2 separate regions of the Homo sapiens genome follow, and region 1 is linked to region 2. Evidence: fine-mapped expression QTL. A gene starts in region 2. The other region holds a variant in brackets. All regions are shown on one strand. Distances are between the middles of the regions.

Region 1 (8,556 bases), 160 kb after region 2:
TGAGGGATTAAAGGCATAAACTATAGGTATCCCTTAGAAGATTTTTTTAAAGGAGCAGAAAAATGGATGATAGTGAAGAAAGGTAGAGAATTATGGATAGATTCCATTCATCCTTCCTATTTTTAATATGGGCAATAAATAGCATGTGTATGTGCTAATGGGAATGTTTCAATAGAGAGGGAGTACTTCACAATGTAGAACAGAGAACAGAGTAGACCTAGAATTAGTTTGAGTAAAAGAGTAAGATCATCAGAATTTGTGTAGTATGATCAGCTGGCAGTCAGGAAGGTGTGCAGACATATCACCTTCTCACACATAATGAAGAACTATTAATTTGTTCACCTGACATTAAACAGATATTATGAACACCTGGATATGCAAAGTACTGACTGGGTTAGGCTCTGGGGAAAGGGTGATAGTTGTCTCTGTCCTCATGGAACTAGCAATTCATTAAATAGAGAATTTAAAATGAATTGGTAAGTATAAAGAAAGATAGGGGAAGTATAGGGTGCTGGATGAGCACATAGCAGAAAGGTTCTGGAAGAGGTAACAATAAAGTAGAAATGTGAAGGATTAGTGTGAGCTAGCCAGGTGAAGAGGGAACAATGAAATTGGCAGAAGAAATAGCATATACAAAAGCCCAATAATAAGAGAAACCTTAAAGAAGTTCTGTTTGGCTGAAGCTCACTAGATAAAAGGGTAATAGCAAGAAAGGAGACTGAAAAGACAAGGATCATATCATTGTAACTTTTGTTAAAGTGTTGGCTTTTGCTGTGGCTGGTCATTGAAACATTTTAAACAGGAATTATATCAGATTTTAGAAGAAAAACAATTCTGGCTACTGCTTGCAGAATACATCAAAGGAGAGCCAGAAACAAGGAGACCAGTTCGAAAGCTATCAGCTTAATCCATAACCAATATGAGTTGTCTAAACTAGACATGGGTATAGAGAGAAGTAGGTAGATTCAGCAGATACAGTTGATCCCTGCTGGTGAATTCTGTATTTGCAATTATGCCTACTCACAAAAATTTGCTTGTAACCCCCAAATCAGTACTTGCTGTACTTTCACAGTCATTTGTGGACATACACAGAGCAGCAGAAAAATTTGTGTTGTCCAATGCACATGTTCCCAGCTGAGGTTGAACAAGTCAACATCCTGCCTTCTTTTAGTTCTTATACTGTAAACAAATATCTTTTTTACCTATTACTTATTGCTATGTTTTTCTCATATCTGCACTTTTTATTGGTAATTTTAAAGTTTAACCTGGCCCTAACCATATTTTTAAAGTACTGTCTATATAGTGTTCCTCAGTGCAAGAAGGCCATGATGTACTTTATGGGGCAAGTATGTTTGTTAAGATAAGCTTCTACTGGGTGCGGTGGCTCATGCCTGTAGTCTTAGCACTTTGGGAGGCTGAGGCGGATGGATTGCCTGAGCTCAGGAGTTCAAGACCAGCCTGGACAACACGTTGAAACCTTGTCTCTACTAAAAATACAAAAAATTAGCCGGGTATGGCAGTGTACGCCTATAGTCCCAGCTACTCAGGAGGCTGAGGCAGGAGAATTGCTAGAACATGGGAGGCGGAGGTTGCAGTGAGCCAAGATCGCACCACTGCACTCCAGCCTGGGCGACAGAGTGAGACTCCATCTCTAAAAAAATAAATAAATAGGCCATTTTGTGAAGAGACGAAGACTGAGCGGTTGCGGCCGCGTTGCCGACCTCCAGCAGCAGTCGGCTTCTCTACGCAGAACCCGGGAGTAGGAGACTCAGAATCGAATCTCTTCTCCCTCCCCTTCTTGTTTTCGGCTTTGTGAGAAACCTTACCATCAAACACAATGGCCAGCAACGTTACCAACAAGACAGATCCTCGTTCCATGAACTCCCGTGTATTCATTGGGAATCTCAACACTCTTGTGGTCAAGAAATCTGATGTGGAGGCAATCTTTTCGAAGTATGGCAAAATTGTGGGCTGCTCTGTTCATAAGGGCTTTGCCTTCTTTCAGTATGTTAATGAGAGAAATGCCCGGGCTGCTGTAGCAGGAGAGGATGGCAGAATGATTGCTGGCCAGGTTTTAGATATTAACCTGGCTGCAGAGCCAAAAGTGAACCGAGGAAAAGCAGGTGTGAAACGATCTGCAGCGGAGATGTACGGCTCCTCTTTTGACTTGGATTGTGACTTTCAACGGGACTATTATGATAGGATGTACAGTTACCCAGCACGTGTACCTCCTCCTCCTCCTATTGCTCGGGCTGTAGTGCCCTCGAAACGTCAGCGTGTATCAGGAAACACTTCACAAAGGGGCATAAGTGGCTTCAATTCTAAGAGTGGACAGCGGGGATCTTCCAAGTCTGGAAAGTTGAAAGGAGATGACCTTCAGGCCATTAAGAGGGAGCTGACCCAGATAAAACAAAAAGTGGATTCTTTCCTGGAAAACCTGGAAAAAATTGAAAAGGAACAGAGCAAACAAGCAGTAGAGATGAACAATGTTAAGTCAGAAGAGGAGCAGAGCAGCAGCTCCGTGAAGAAAGATGAGACTAATGTGAAGATGGAGTCTGAGGGGGGTGCAGATGACTCTGCTGAGGAGGGGGACCTACTGGATGATGATGATAATGAAGATGGGGGGATGACCAGCTGGAGTTGATCAAGGATGATGAAAAAGAGGCTGAGGAAGGAGAGGATGACAGAGACAGCGCCAATGGCGAGGATGACTCTTAAGCACATAGTGGGGTTTAGAAATCTTATCCCATTATTTCTTTACCTAGGCGCTTGTCTAAGATCAAATTTTTCACCAGATCCTCTCCCCTAGTATCTTCAGCACATGCTCACTGTTTTCCCCATCCTTGTCCTTCCCATGTTCATTAATTAATTCATATTGCCCCGCGCCTAGTCCCATTTTCACTTCCTTTGACGCTCCTAGTAGTTTTGTTAAGTCTTACCCTGTAATTTTTGCTTTTAATTTTGATACCTCTTTATGACTTAACAATAAAAATGATGTATGGTTTTTATCAACTGTCTCCAAAATAATCTCTTGTTATGCAGGGAGTACAGTTCTTTTCATTCATACATAAGTTCAGTAGTTGCTTCCCTAACTGCAAAGGCAATCTCATTTAGTTGAGTAGCTCTTGAAAGCAGCTTTGAGTTAGAAGTATGTGTGTTACACCCCCACATTAGTGTGCTGTGTGGGGCAGTTCAACACAAATGTAACAATGTATTTTTGTGAATGAGAGTTGGCATGTCAAATGCATCCTCTAGAAAAATAATTAGTGTTATAGTCTTAAGATTTGTTTTCTAAAGTTGATACTGTGGGTTATTTTTGTGAACAGCCTGATGTTTGGGACCTTTTTTCCTCAAAATAAACAAGTCCTTATTAAACCAGGGGAAAAAATAAATAAATAAATAAATAAATAAAAATAAGCTTCATTATGGTATGAGTTATACTGCTGTTAACCATGAGCTCAATGTTAGTGAATGAAAGGTGTGTTTAAACAGAAACACACTTTCTGTCCTAGACAATAATCTCTTCTCATTATACTCATTTAACCTTGAGGGAGGGGGTTTCGCCTCACATTTCTGGCTTCAGAAACCACGTATTGCACATATGAAAGTGAACCCAAAGATTATCCTATCCTAAACTGTTCCTGAGATTCATTCATACCCACAAACAGACCTATGAACATGTCCAACTGGATGTCTTTTAGGAACATCTAACAATGTTGTGTGTTGACTGATTGCTGAAAATCTGTGACCAGAGGCTCACAGGAATGTAATCCTCGGTGGTTTAGTGTTCACTAATTCAGTATTCATAGCAACTTTATAAAATATAACTTATGCAAATAATAATAATCTACTCAAGTAATAGAATATACTAGACTTAATAGTTCCTTAGATGGAGGTAATGATGAATGAGAAATAAAAGATAATTCCCAGGTTTTTGTCTTATACAAGTGATAGTGACATTTATGAAAAGAGGAAGAGCAGTTTTCAGGGAGGCAGTAACCATAGGGGCTAGAGATAATAAGTTTAGTTTTTGACATGTTGAGTTAGATGTTCCTGAAAGACATCCAACTGGACATGTCCATAGGTTCATTTGTGGGTATGAATCTCAGGAACAGTTGAGGATAGGATGATCTTTGGGTTCACTTTCATATGTGCAATACATGTTTTCCGAAGCCAGGAATGTGAGATGAGACGCCCTAACCCAAGGTTAGGGTATAAGATGAGAAGAGATTATGGTCTAGGACAGAATTTTGAGAAATGTCAGTAAAGAGATGACTAAAGGAAGAGGGCATGCAAGGATACTAGAAGCAGAGTAGAGAGAGAAAAAATCAAGAAAATATACATTATCAAAGCCAGAAGAAAAGACCATTTCATGAAGGAAGGTGTTTGTATTATCAAATGTTATCAAGAGATTAAGGACTAAAAAGTATTCATTGGATTTAGTGAAAAGTACATTTATAGATCTTTCTGAGGATAGTCTCATGAAGTAATGATGGAAACTTAATTATACTGGATTGAGTAGACTGTGAAAAAGAAATCTGATTTGAAATTAATCTAGATACTTTTTCTTTAGTTTCTAAGTTTTCTGTTCAACTTTTGCATTATCATTGATATTCGGTTGATCACATATAAGCAAGAGATATAGGCATTTTTTCTTGACTATTTTCCAAGGATGAACCCACTAAATCTCACTGTTTATGGAGCTTTCCATTTCACTCTGTGGAAATGACACAATATGTTCCATCTCTGCACAGATAGAAAGATGCGCAATGATTTTTACACTTTTTTTGTTTTGTTTTGTTTTTTGTTTTTTTGAGACGGAGTCTCACTCTGTCACCCAGGCTGGAGTGCAGTGGCGCGATCTAGGCTCACTGCAAACTCCGCCTCCTGGGTTCACGCCATTCTCCTGCCTCAGCCTTCCGGGACTACAAGCGCCCACTACCATGCCCCGCTAATTTTTTGGGTTTTTAGTAGAGACGGGGTTTCACTGTGTTAGCCAGGGTGGTCTCGATCTGCTGACGTCGTGATCCGCCCGCCTCGGCCTCCCAAAGTGCTGGGACTACAGGCGTGAGCCACCGCGCCCGGCCTTTTTTTTTTTTTTTTTTTGAGACGGATTCTGTCGCCCAGGCTGGAGTGCAGTGGCGCGATCT[C/A]GGCTCACTGCAAGCTCTGCCTCCCAGGTTCACGCCATTCTCCTGCCTCAGCCTCCTGAGTAGCTGGGGCTACAGGCGCCCGCCACCATGCCCGGCTAATTTTTTGTATATTTTTTAGTAGAGACGGGGTTTCACTGTGTTAGCCAGGATGGTCTCGATTTCCTGACCTCATGATGCGCCCGTCTTGGCCTCCGAAATTGCTGGGATTATAGGCATGAGCCACTGCGCCCGGCCTAATTAATTGTTTTTCTAAGAGCAAGGATCTTACTTTGTTGCCCAGGCTGGAGTCCAGTGGTGTGATCATAGCTCACTGCAGCCTCAAACTCCTGGATTCAAGTGATCCTCCTACCTCAACCTCCCAAGTAGCTAGGGCTATAGATGCACACCACCATGCCTGGTTAATTTTTTTTATTTTTATTTTTTGTAGAGACAGATCCCTGTCTCTCTGTTGCCCAGGCTGGTCTTGAACTCCTGACCTCAAGTGATCCTCCCACCTCAGCCTCCCAAAGTACTGGGATTACAGGCATGAGTTCCCATGCCCAGCAATGAACTTAATTTTGCAATACCTTTGCTACTTTAAATATTCAGTACTCAGGCTGAAATCTCAGTTCTATGCTCTTTCTTTTCTGCTAACTATAAAAGTTTAGAATAGCTTAATATATTATACACTTTTGGTCAGAGAGTGAATAGTTTATAGAGTATAGAGGAGTTTTTTTAAAAATGAAATCGAATTAACAGTTGAACATTCACATTTCAAGAACAAAGTGAAAAATAGTGTACAAATAAGTTTTAGTGAGAATAATATTGATTTTATGCAGCTATTCTTTTCTTTTTAACTTTTAATGTGCGATAATGGTAGACTTACAAAAATAGTATGAAGAATTCTGTATACACTTCACCCAGATTCTCAAAATATTAACGTTTTACCACATTGCTTTACCATTCTTTCTTTTCTCTGAAACATTTTGAAGATTTTAAGTTGTACACATGATGCTCCTTAACCTCTAAACAGTTCAGTGTTTTTTCCCTAAAAATAAGGATATTCTCTCGTGTAATCTTAATACAGTCATCAAATCAGGAAATTAACATTGATATAGTACTATTGTCTAGTATATAAGCCTGTGCTGTTCAGTCTGGTGGCCACTAGCCATATGTGGCTATTTAAATAAATTAAATACATTAGAAATTCAGTTTCTCATTTCAGGCACTCAGCAGTCCAGTGGTTATTGTATTGGAGAGCATAGATATAGAACACTACCATCATTGCAGAAAGTTGTATTTGTAATGCTCTAGACATTCAAATGTTGCCAGTTGTCCCATTAATGTCTTTTGTAGTAAGTAAAAGATGATTTTTTTCCTGTTTCAGGAATGATTGCGCAATCAAGTGACATTTAGATTTCATGTCTTTTTAGTATTGTTTAATCTGGAATTGTTTACAGAATTAATTTATCTTTCAGGTCCTTAACATTTTTCAAGAGTTACAGGCCTGTTATTTTATGAAATGTGCCTTATTTGGAGTTTGGTGTTTCCTTCAGATTAGTATCAGATATTGGATATTCAGGAACAATACTACAGAAATGCATTTGTGTCTTTTTCAGTGAATCATATTTGAAGGCCCATTGTATCAATTTTTCTTGTTACTGGTAATGTTAACATTGATTTATCAGGTTCATTGATCTATTTCCATTGTAAAGTTGGAGAAGCTTTTTTTATTTTAAAAAAGTTCATTTACCAATTTTAACAATTGAGAAAAAAGTCTGACTATAATACTTGATGACATAGACATCATGTTTAAGTAGAAAACACAAGAATAAAAAAAGCAATTATCACAGATAATATTTCACAACTTCAGTTGTTTCCTTCAAATTTGCTTTATGTAATTGGGTGGATATAAATTAATAAACAGAAATTTAAGCAAGATACATGTAACAATTTAACACAACTTGATACTCTAATTTCTTTCAATTTTTCTCAAATTCATCTTTAAGTCTTTCCATCATGGGGCTCATAAGGAAATTTAACCAACATATGGATACTATAGTTGAATGTCAAATCTTTACAAAGTACTTAAGAGATACTAAATTCCTCTATATTGCAATTATGAAGAAGCTTCATGACACTGTGTTTTGCATGTAGAAAAATGTTAGAGTCCAATATGCAGCTCAACATAAAATAATAAGAAACATTTCTGATTTCTTTGTTAGGTTGAGACCACTTTTCCTTTTCCTAATGAATGATTTTTCTTTACTGTTATGTCACTGAAGTGAAAAAGTAGGTCACCTAGGAGTATATACGAAAAAATAAATACATTAAATGGATAAAACATTACTACTATGTCTTTACCTCTAACACTTCAGAAGCCTAGAGATTTAAAGTATTCTTACATTAAATGGAAGAAAAAATGGAGAAATTCCTTCTTTTTTGAGATCACAACTATGAAGTCATGTGGTTATACAAATTCTGCATTTGTGTGCAAAATGTGAAACACACTTTTTGCTTCTACTTGCTTCATTTTGTCAGTTAGCTAGCAGGACTTAATAGATACCTTTCCAAGAAACAGGGACTGAGATGTGTTTTATGTAACTTCAGTAACCTCAGCATTACAGTAATGAGGGATGCAGTATCTTTTTGCTATGGTTCAAGACAAGAGGGAAGGAGGTCACAGGAAACAGAATAAATCAAAATTGTTACAGCTGAGTAACTATTTCTCATGAGGTCTCACCGTGGTGCCACCTTCATTTTTCATAAACATGGTGGCATAATTCAATCTCAATAAATCAGAATTCTTAATATTTAAAATTTACCTTGATTTTCAATTATCACCATATTAACAACCAAAATAATTAGATAAAACACACAGGAAAGTGTAATATTAAACCCCACTGTAATAGAGTTGGTTTATTGACACTTTTTTTTTTTAATAGAAAAGGGATAGTACATCTCAGTTTGCTTACAAGCTAGGATATCACTTTGAATTCTGCATTTCCTGACTGCAAACAGAATATAGCACTTATAACAGATTATAAATAAACTGGTTTTCAAGCATAGAACTAGCCCAATGATAATAATACACTATTTAAAAGGACCTAAGGCAATGAATTCCATTTCTAATGGAAAAAAATAACTGTGCAAACAAGCTTTAAACTACTTTTTTTGTGTGTGCCAGTGTTATAAAATGCAGCTTTTAATAAAACCTTGACCCAAATGCCAGTAACATCAGAAAAGAATTTGGGGATGGGGAGGGGGAAGAGAAGAAAGTTATTTCATTTAGGAAAATAACTACTATCTTTTGCTTATCTTCAGTACATACAATTTAAACAAATACAGCTGCTGTAACACTTTACACAATTCCTATGTACTGGAGCAATAACAAGGTCTAAATACAGTTATATTTTTGAACATTGGG
Region 2 (8,556 bases):
AAATTACCCAGTCTCAGGTATTTCGTTATAGCAGTGCAAGAATGAACTAACACAGGTTATAATATTCTTTCCATCTCCATTCACTGAAGGCCTAACGAAAGGCCACTGAACACCTGTGATGTGTCAAACATTGTGTTAGGCACTAGGCATAGCATAGTGATTAATATAGACATGGCCCCTGTCACCTTGGCACTTAGACTCTACTGAGAGAGATTATACATACACAAGCAAATGTATAAATTGTGAAAGTATTACAAAGAAAATATGCAGGGTATGATGATACAGAATAAATAGGATGGGAGTACCTAATTTAGATAAAGTGGTCAGGGTAGTCCTTTCTGTGCCATTAACTTTTACATGTTCAAAAGTTCAGTGCACTCAGGAAAAACTGAAAGGACTGTGAAGCTGAGGCACGGTAATAATAGTTACTGTCTGCACCACTTGTTTTTCCTTATGCTATGCTGCCTTGCACTATTAATTCTCCTTGTAGGTCTAGACATCATGTCTCCATAATCAAGTTAAGCTTCCTTAAACCAAGGACTTTGCAGTACTTCACAGTGCCTTACTAATATCCAACACAGTCCCTTTCACATAGTTATTGTTTGAGGCTCAATCTGCCTCTTTACATACATTATTTCTAATGCCACCCTCCCGTAATTCTATGAGGCAGATGTTAATTTTCCTTTTTTTTTTTTTGAGACAGACTCTCACTCTGTCGCCCGGGCTGGAGTCCAATGGCGCGATCTCTGCTCACTGCAAGCTCCGCCTCCCGGGTTCACGCCATTCTCCTGCCTCAGCCTCCCAAGTAGCTGCGACTACAGGCGTCCGCCACCACGCCTGGCTAATTTTTTTTGTATTTTTAGTAGAGATGGGGTTTCACCATGTTAGCCAGGATGGTCTCAATCTCCTGACCTCATGGTCCACTTGCCTCGGCCTCCCAAAGTGATGCGATTACAGGCGTGAGCCACAGCGCCCAGCCAATTTTCCTATTTTACTGATGTGAAAACAGAATCAGAGAGGATATGGAACTTGCCTACAGTTACAGAGCCAATACCAAGTGCTTAATTCAGGATTCAAATACAGGACTGTGATTCCAAAATACCAGGCTTTTTCACTATTCAGATGTTGTAAATTGATAGCTTAAAGGTATACTCATCTGTAGAGTATTTTATTCTTATTTATTTATTTATTTATTTTTTTAGTATTTATTGATCATTCTTGGGTGTTTCTCGGAGAGGGGGATTTGGCAGGGCCATAGGACAATAGTGGAGAGAAGGTCAGCAGATAAACATGTGAACAAAGGTCTCTGGTTTTCCTAGGCAGAGGACTCTGCGGCCTTCTGCAGTGTTTATGTCCCTGGGTACTTGAGATTAGGGAGTGGTGATGACTCTTAACGAGTATGCTGCCTTCAAGCATCTGTCTAACAAAGCACATCTTGCACCGCCCTTAATCCATTTAACCCTGAGTTGACACAGCACATGTTTCAGAGAGCACGGGGTTGGGGGTAAGGTTATAGATCAACAGCATCCCAAGGCAGAAGGATTTTTCTTAGTATAGAACAAAATGGAGTCTCCTATGTCTACTTCTTTCTACACAGACATATTAACAATCTGATCTCTCTTTCTTTTCCCCACATTTCCCCCTTTTCTATTCGACAAAACCGCCATTGTCATCATGGCCCGTTCTCAATGAACTGTTGGGTACACCTCCCAGACGGGGTGGCAGCCGGGCAGAGGGGCTCCTCACTTCCCAGAGGTGGCGGCCAGGCGGAGGGGCCCCCACCCCTAAGACGGGGCGGCTGCCGGGCAGAGGCGCCCCCACCTCCCAGACGGGGCGGCTGCTGGGCGGGGGCGCCCCCCACCTCCCAAGAGTATTTTAATATATTCTAAATTAGCTACTAATGTAAAAAATCTGCAAATACATTAACAATCTGGATTTCCAGCCCGGCGCGGTGTCTCACGCCTGTAATCCCTGCACTTTGGGAGGCCGAGGTAGGTGGATCAAGAGGTCAGGAGATTGAGACCATCCTGGCCAACATGGTGAAACCCCGTCTCTACTAAAATGCAAAAAATCAGCTGGGCGTGGTGGCACGTGCCTGTAATCCCAGCTACTTGGGAGGCTGAGACAGGGGAATCGTTTGAACTCGAGAGGCGGAGATTGCAGTGAGCCGAGATCATGCCACTGCACTCCAGCCTGGTGACAGAGTGAGACTCTGTCTCACCAAAAAAAAAGAAAAAAAAAATCTGGATTTCCATTTTCCCTTGAAAATTATAATAATCTAATAACACAGGTCCTGCATTCCCACATGACAACTGGCTAGAGCTGAGTAGTGACCTCCTCCAGACATTTTCCACTTTTTATCTTGTCCATTTATTTAGGTAACCTGCCTGGTAGTCCTCTATAAACATCACAGTTTATAATCCTTGCACCATTCTATGCTTTAATACAACAGTGTATTATTATTTAAGTACTAATACAAGTTATATGTATAAATATGAATAGGATTTTTTTTTTCAATGACTAACAGTTTTCCTAGGACTTCAGCTGAGACCATGAAACATAGAAGTGGAGAAAAGAAGGAATGCATTACTGAAGGAAAATCAATAAATACGGAAGCTGGGAATGAGCTCAGTTTCTTTTGGCAACAGGATTAGTTAAGGTTGGGACCTTATTGTGAAGACCCTTAAAAGCCAGGATGAAGTGTTTGAGGTTTTCTATAGCAGTTATTAAAAGTGTTTGCAAAAAGGAATAAGACAGTAGCTCCTGAAAACTTTTATATATGACAAATACAAAAGAATGATTTTACTTTTTCCAAAAAAGTGGAAATGACTAAGATAATGTCTACTTACTTTAAATGAACTTCAGTTTGGGAATGTATTGCTTCTCCCAACACATTTCCAGTTTCATCCACCACAGCAGCTGCTGTATCATCACAACTAGTTTCAATTCCCAATACTATTTTATGAAGAAATAGTGTTCCAGGATGAAAATTAAAACTTCTTAAAAATTCATAAACTTTCCTTTTTGATGGTTTAAAAAAAACTCCTGCAGTCTTAGTCAAGATTAGCATACTTACTCTATAGATAATTCCTGAAAAAGAATTACAGAAACAACTTATTATTTGCAACTGACATTAGCCAGCTTATTTTTCAATATATAGTTTTACAGAATTACAGGAAAGTTTGTAAAAGTCACCAAAAGTTTGTAAAGGCTATAGCAACATGGGAATATAAATAATATTATGAATGAATATAATGTTCTCCAAGGGGGAAAACAGGGGTCAGATATAAAATTTTTTAGTATTATTATTACTTGCATGCTGTTCCTACCAAAAGACTTACTATTAAGACAGCTAATATAAAGTACAATAATTGATAGAGTCCTCTGAAAAGTGCTATTTATTTTTTGACAGCTAAAATTAAGACAAAATGTGGATTTTCTAAAAAGAATCAAACAACAAAGGCAGATGGAACAGATAAAAATACTGTTAATGTATTCCATCTCCTAAAAACATCTTTCAAAATAAAACTGGATCATTTGGTTCAAAAACAAGAGTTAACATAAACACACACACGCCAACTGCAACCTAACACCTATTTTATCCTTAATTGCAATCTTTGGAATTAAATCTCCACTTTTTGCTACAGGTTTTGTCATAACAAGGATCTTCCCAAATCCTTTTCCCCCAAAATAATAGCAGCCCATCACTAAAGCACACTAGTATTTTCACACTGCGAAGCACCTAATTTTATGCCCCCAGATCATCCGTTCTAAAACTTTCTGGGTGTTAAAGCAGGGCCTTTCTCCACCACACTAAAGGGACACGGCATCCCAGGGATTAGAGATGAGCGACCTATTTGCAGAAGGCAGTTGCGGGCAGTGCAGCCCAGACAGACACAACCTAGAGGAATTAGATTTGCATTAACAAAATCTGGACAAGGAGGATTGTACGAAGCACTACCCTTTCGGGCCAAGAAAGCTGCAGGCTGAACCCACGTGACTTGGGTAGCGCTGGTCTCCTGTCGGCTGTAAGGCGGCGACGGGCGCAAACTGGAACCGCTTTTCCAGGTGCGCAAAAGCGTCAGTGGGGTGAAGAGTGAGCAATTTCACCCACCTTCCACTTGGGCGGCAGTAGCTAGCACTTGTCTCCTTTCCCTACTAAAGACTGTCGACTGCCCTTATCGCTGCAGGAGAAAGCCCGAACCTGGCGCCCGGAAGTGATGTCATCGGAACTGTGCAAGGTCCCGTCCAGAGCTGGCTGCTGTTCCGCTAGCGAGCGGCATGCTTAGTGAAGAAAAGCTTAAAGGCCGTCTTTGCCCAAAACGCTCTCTGTGCGCACCTGCATTTCCCCCAGATTTGCAGGTGATGAGAGTTCTGTAAAATTACACAGCTAGTGACTGATCCAGCGGAGGCCGAATACAGGTTTGTCTGACTACACAACATCAAGTTCCAAACACTAAGCTACATTAAAAAGAAATTTTTTTTTTGCCCTTGGCTGGAATTTGGTTGCTACTGTGAGAAAAGGATGGGGTAGATTATTCGTCATTCATTTTTAAGGGAACTATCATCAAATCTAAACTTAGGGGTGAGGTACCTGATACTTTCATCGGAGAAATAGGATGGAATCTAGCGGCGCCCCCTAGCAGGGTTACCAAAGAACGGAAGTGTTTCTCATCGGACAGTGTAAACCGTTTCTCCCACTTCACTAGGAAGAAAGGGGCTGGCTTATTTTTACAATTAAAAAAAAAAAAAATCGGGAGACTGAGGCAGGAGAACTGCTTGAACTGGGACCCGGGAGGCGGAGGTAGCAGTGAGCCGAGATCGCGCCACTGCACTCCAGCCTGAGCTACAGAGCGAGACTCTGTCTCAAAAAAAAAAAAAAAAAAAAAAAAAAGGCTGTGGTAAATATTCAGTTGCCTTAAACCATCCTATTTTCATAATGCATTATGTTGTCCTTCCTTACTATGTACATGAAATTCAGCATGGTATGTTTTCAAAGTCTTGCACCTGCTTTTTTTTTTTTTTTTCTTTTATTGGTTTGTGAACTTTGTTTTGAACATTGGACAGATTTATTCCAAGAGTCAGGCTTTTCCCCTGCTGGTATTTAAGATTTTAGTAAGCAAGGACCTTAGAATCCACTGTTGTACAGGGCTGGCATATATACCTGCACTTTGCACGTTGTGAAGCTCTGGGTATAAAAGATGAGTAAATCCCATAACAACATGTTGGGAAGCCACAGAGTACAGTCTAGAGGTGGATACAGATAAATAAGTAAATAATTACCAGAATATGGTTGAGGTTTTTTATTTGGAACTTATGTTTTTCAAAAATTTCATTTATGTGTAACAATAATGATAAAGTGGCACTATGTACCAGGCACCTGCTGTAGATTAATTTCTTTCAAAATCCCATGAAATAGTTTCTGTCCTCATTTTACAGGCAACTGGGCCACAGAGTTTGGGTGCTTTGGAGGTCACACAACTAGGAAAAGCAAAGCTAGGATTAGAAGTCAGGACATCTGGCACTGGAGTCTGTTTTCTTAACTGCTAGAAGAGAAAATAACTCACATTTTCTCTAGGGTGCACTGTTGGCCTAAACAAGGGAAAAAAGAAAAATTAAAACCTAAAAGTTAAGAAAAATTAGTCATACGGTTAGAGAGGTCAGAGCTTATTTCTGTTATACACTGGAATCCAGTTTGAACATAAAACCTTTCACATCAGGTATTATTTTTCTTACAATTCCAATTATGTTCAGCAAGTATATCCCAATGCTCTTCTGTGCTGTCAAGACAAGCAAGATCCTATTGTGTGTGCTATCATTGGTAGATTCCTCGTCTAGGCACTCTTGGCCAGTGTTGAGTCCGAATGCTGTTATTATGTGAAACAGGAGAACTCTAGGGCACATTAGTATGGAATTTTATCTTTCCCTTGACCGAATATATGTAAAGTGGCACTTATACAAGTCCCATGTATTTAGCAAAGATATACATTTTTTATGTTCTCTATTGTAACATAGGAGAGGGTTATTGGGGGAAAGGCATGTATGCTCTCTGAGGCCTGTCTGTACTTTTATGCAGATAGTTAGAATGCCACTCATGGGCATTCTCAAAAAATATGGCCTATGTAAGTTCAACATAAATCGAGAGTTCCAGCTGAATCTAGATATGCTTATTTGGTCTCAGATATTGTGTGTCTAGCTTTCCATTTGTAGCCTTCAGAGGAAAATTTTATTATTAATACATATTATATATTAAAACATATAAGAATCTTTCTTTTTTTTTTTAGATGGAGTCTCACTCTGTTGCCAGGCTGGAGTGCAGTGGTGCCATCTCAGCTCACTACAACCTCCACCTCCGGGGTTCAAGCGATTCTCCTGCCTCAGCCTTCCGAGTAGCTGGGACTACAGGTGCCTGCCACCATTCCCAGTTAATTTTTGTATTTTTAGTAGAGATGACATTTCACTATGTTGGCCAGGCTGGTTTTGAACTCCTGACCTCGTGATCCACCTGCCTCAGCTTCCCAAAGTGCTGGGATTACAGGCATGAGCCACCACGCCTGGCCCAAATCCTATTTTTCAATATTTATTTCCTAATTATGTCCTACTAGGTTAGGTTTTATTTTCATTTGTTACATATTTATTGGGTTATTTCCTTTATGCTAGGAACTTTATTAGTATAAGGATACAGATAAGGTCCATTCTCTGTTCTCAAGAATCTGAGTCTACAGGCAGAAGACAAAATGCAGTACAGAATTATGGAAATGTGAATGGAAACTGCATTCAGAGAGGGGTATTGCTTGGGAAAAGCCACATTGGCGTGCCACAGATGTATGCCAGCCTGGCAGGCCCATAGTGTGATTACTTGAGTTTCAATATCTGATTCTTTTATAGGCTTGAAATTGGTTTATCAGGTCTGGAAGTGACTGGACTCTGGAGTACTGAGTTACCCACCACAAACTGCTAATAAAATGCTGTGTAAAAGCCATTAATACTAATGTATTATTTATGAGAAACACAATTATGGGGAAGCTAGGATAGTTGAGTTTGCTGGTCATTATCTTCCTTGTATTGACCAAATTACAATGAAGGCTAAATCCAAATTATAATCAGAAGATTGCTTGGTAAATACAGAACAGAAACAATAGAAATGTGTGTGGTGCTTTTAATGGCTAGTATTTCAAGCCTGATGCAGCCCTTTCCACTTGAGTCACATTGTCTTACATTCTTTGACTTGGCTAGTGCTAAAAATACATTGCCATTTTACTTTCTCCATTTTTTTTTTTTTTTTTTTTTTGAGACGACGTCTGGATTGCAATTGGTGTGAGGTTGGCTCACTACAACCTCTGCCTCCCGGGTTCAAGCGATTCTCCTGCCCCAGCCTCCTGAGTAGCTGGGACTACAGGTGCACGCCACCACGCCCAGCTAATTTTTGTATTTTTAGTAGAGACGGGGTTTCACCATGTTGGCCAGGATGGTCTCCATCTCTTGACCTCGTGATCCACCTGCCTCGGCCTCCCAAAGTGCTGGGATTACAGGCGTGAGCCACCACGCCCAGCCCATCCTTTCTCCTCTTAAATTTTCTTTGCTGACCAGTATCTCTTGATGTGGAACGTTCTTTCATTAGTGGTAATACTGTCAATCAGGTCTTTGGAAGATATTTTGGGTTTTGTTTGCTGAACCATTATGCTTATTTTACAAATTAACTTTTCTGAACTTTATTGTGGTAGAATTTACATAACAATTTACCATTTTGACCATTTTTAAGTTCAAAGGAACTAAGTACATTCACATTGCTATGCAACTATGACTACCATCTAGCTCCAGAACCTTTTCATCTTCTCAAACTGAAATTCTGTACCCATTAAACAATAAGCTCCCAGCCGGGCACAGTGGCTCGCGCCTGTAATCCCAGCACTTTGGGAGGCTGAGGTGGGCGGATTACCTGGAGTCAGGAGTTCGAGACCAGCCTGGCCAACATGATGGCCATCTCTACTAAGAATACAAAAATTAGCTGGTTGTGGTGATGAATGCCTGTAATCCCAGCTACGTGGGAGGCTGAGGCATGAGAATCACTTGAACCTGGGAGGCAGACGTTGCAGTGAGCTGGGATTGCACCACTGCACTCCAGCCTAGGCAACAGAAGGAGACTCCCGTCTCAAAAAAAAAAAAACAAAACAAAAACAAGAACCAATAAGCTCCCATTCCTTCTGCCTTCCAGCCCTTGGCAACCACCATTCCACTTTAAATTTGATTATTCTAGGAGTTCATAAAAGTGGGGTAACACAGTATTTGTCATTTTGTGACTGACTTATTTCACCTATCATAAAGTCTTCAAGATTCATCCAAGATGTAATATATATCAGAAGTTTCCTCCTTTTTAAGGCTGAGTAATATTCCATTGTGTGTATATGTCACATTTCTTTTAACCATTCATCCCTTGATGGACACTTGGATTGCTTCCACCTTCTGGCTATTGTGAATGCTGCTGCTGTGAACATAGATGTACAAATTATCTGTCCAAGTTCCTGCTTTTACTTCTTTTGGGTATATACCCGGAAG

Evidence for each region.
Region 1: its variant is fine-mapped to the expression of OSGEPL1 in whole blood (INTERVAL, PIP above 0.99).

The regions. Positions count from the first base shown.
Region 1 is chr2:189,921,499-189,930,054 of GRCh38, forward strand. It overlaps a transcript of AKAP19 not described here, the pseudogene HNRNPCP2 and the pseudogene RNF11P1. Among named protein-coding and RNA genes, the nearest start is that of MSTN, 140 kb to the right of the region's middle. The variant C/A (reference allele first, on the strand shown) is at 5,151.
Region 2 is chr2:189,758,571-189,767,126 of GRCh38, forward strand. It overlaps OSGEPL1 (O-sialoglycoprotein endopeptidase like 1), which reads right to left and starts at 4,222. Exons shown (of 9, transcript NM_022353.3): 1 at 4,115-4,222; 2 at 2,850-3,090. The coding sequence starts at 3,070. OSGEPL1-AS1 (OSGEPL1 antisense RNA 1) reads left to right here and starts at 4,210. Exons shown (of 2, transcript NR_102429.1): 1 at 4,210-4,422; 2 at 6,285-6,986. It also overlaps a transcript of ANKAR not described here and a transcript of ORMDL1 not described here. RefSeq lists enhancers at 3,705-3,864, 4,151-4,897.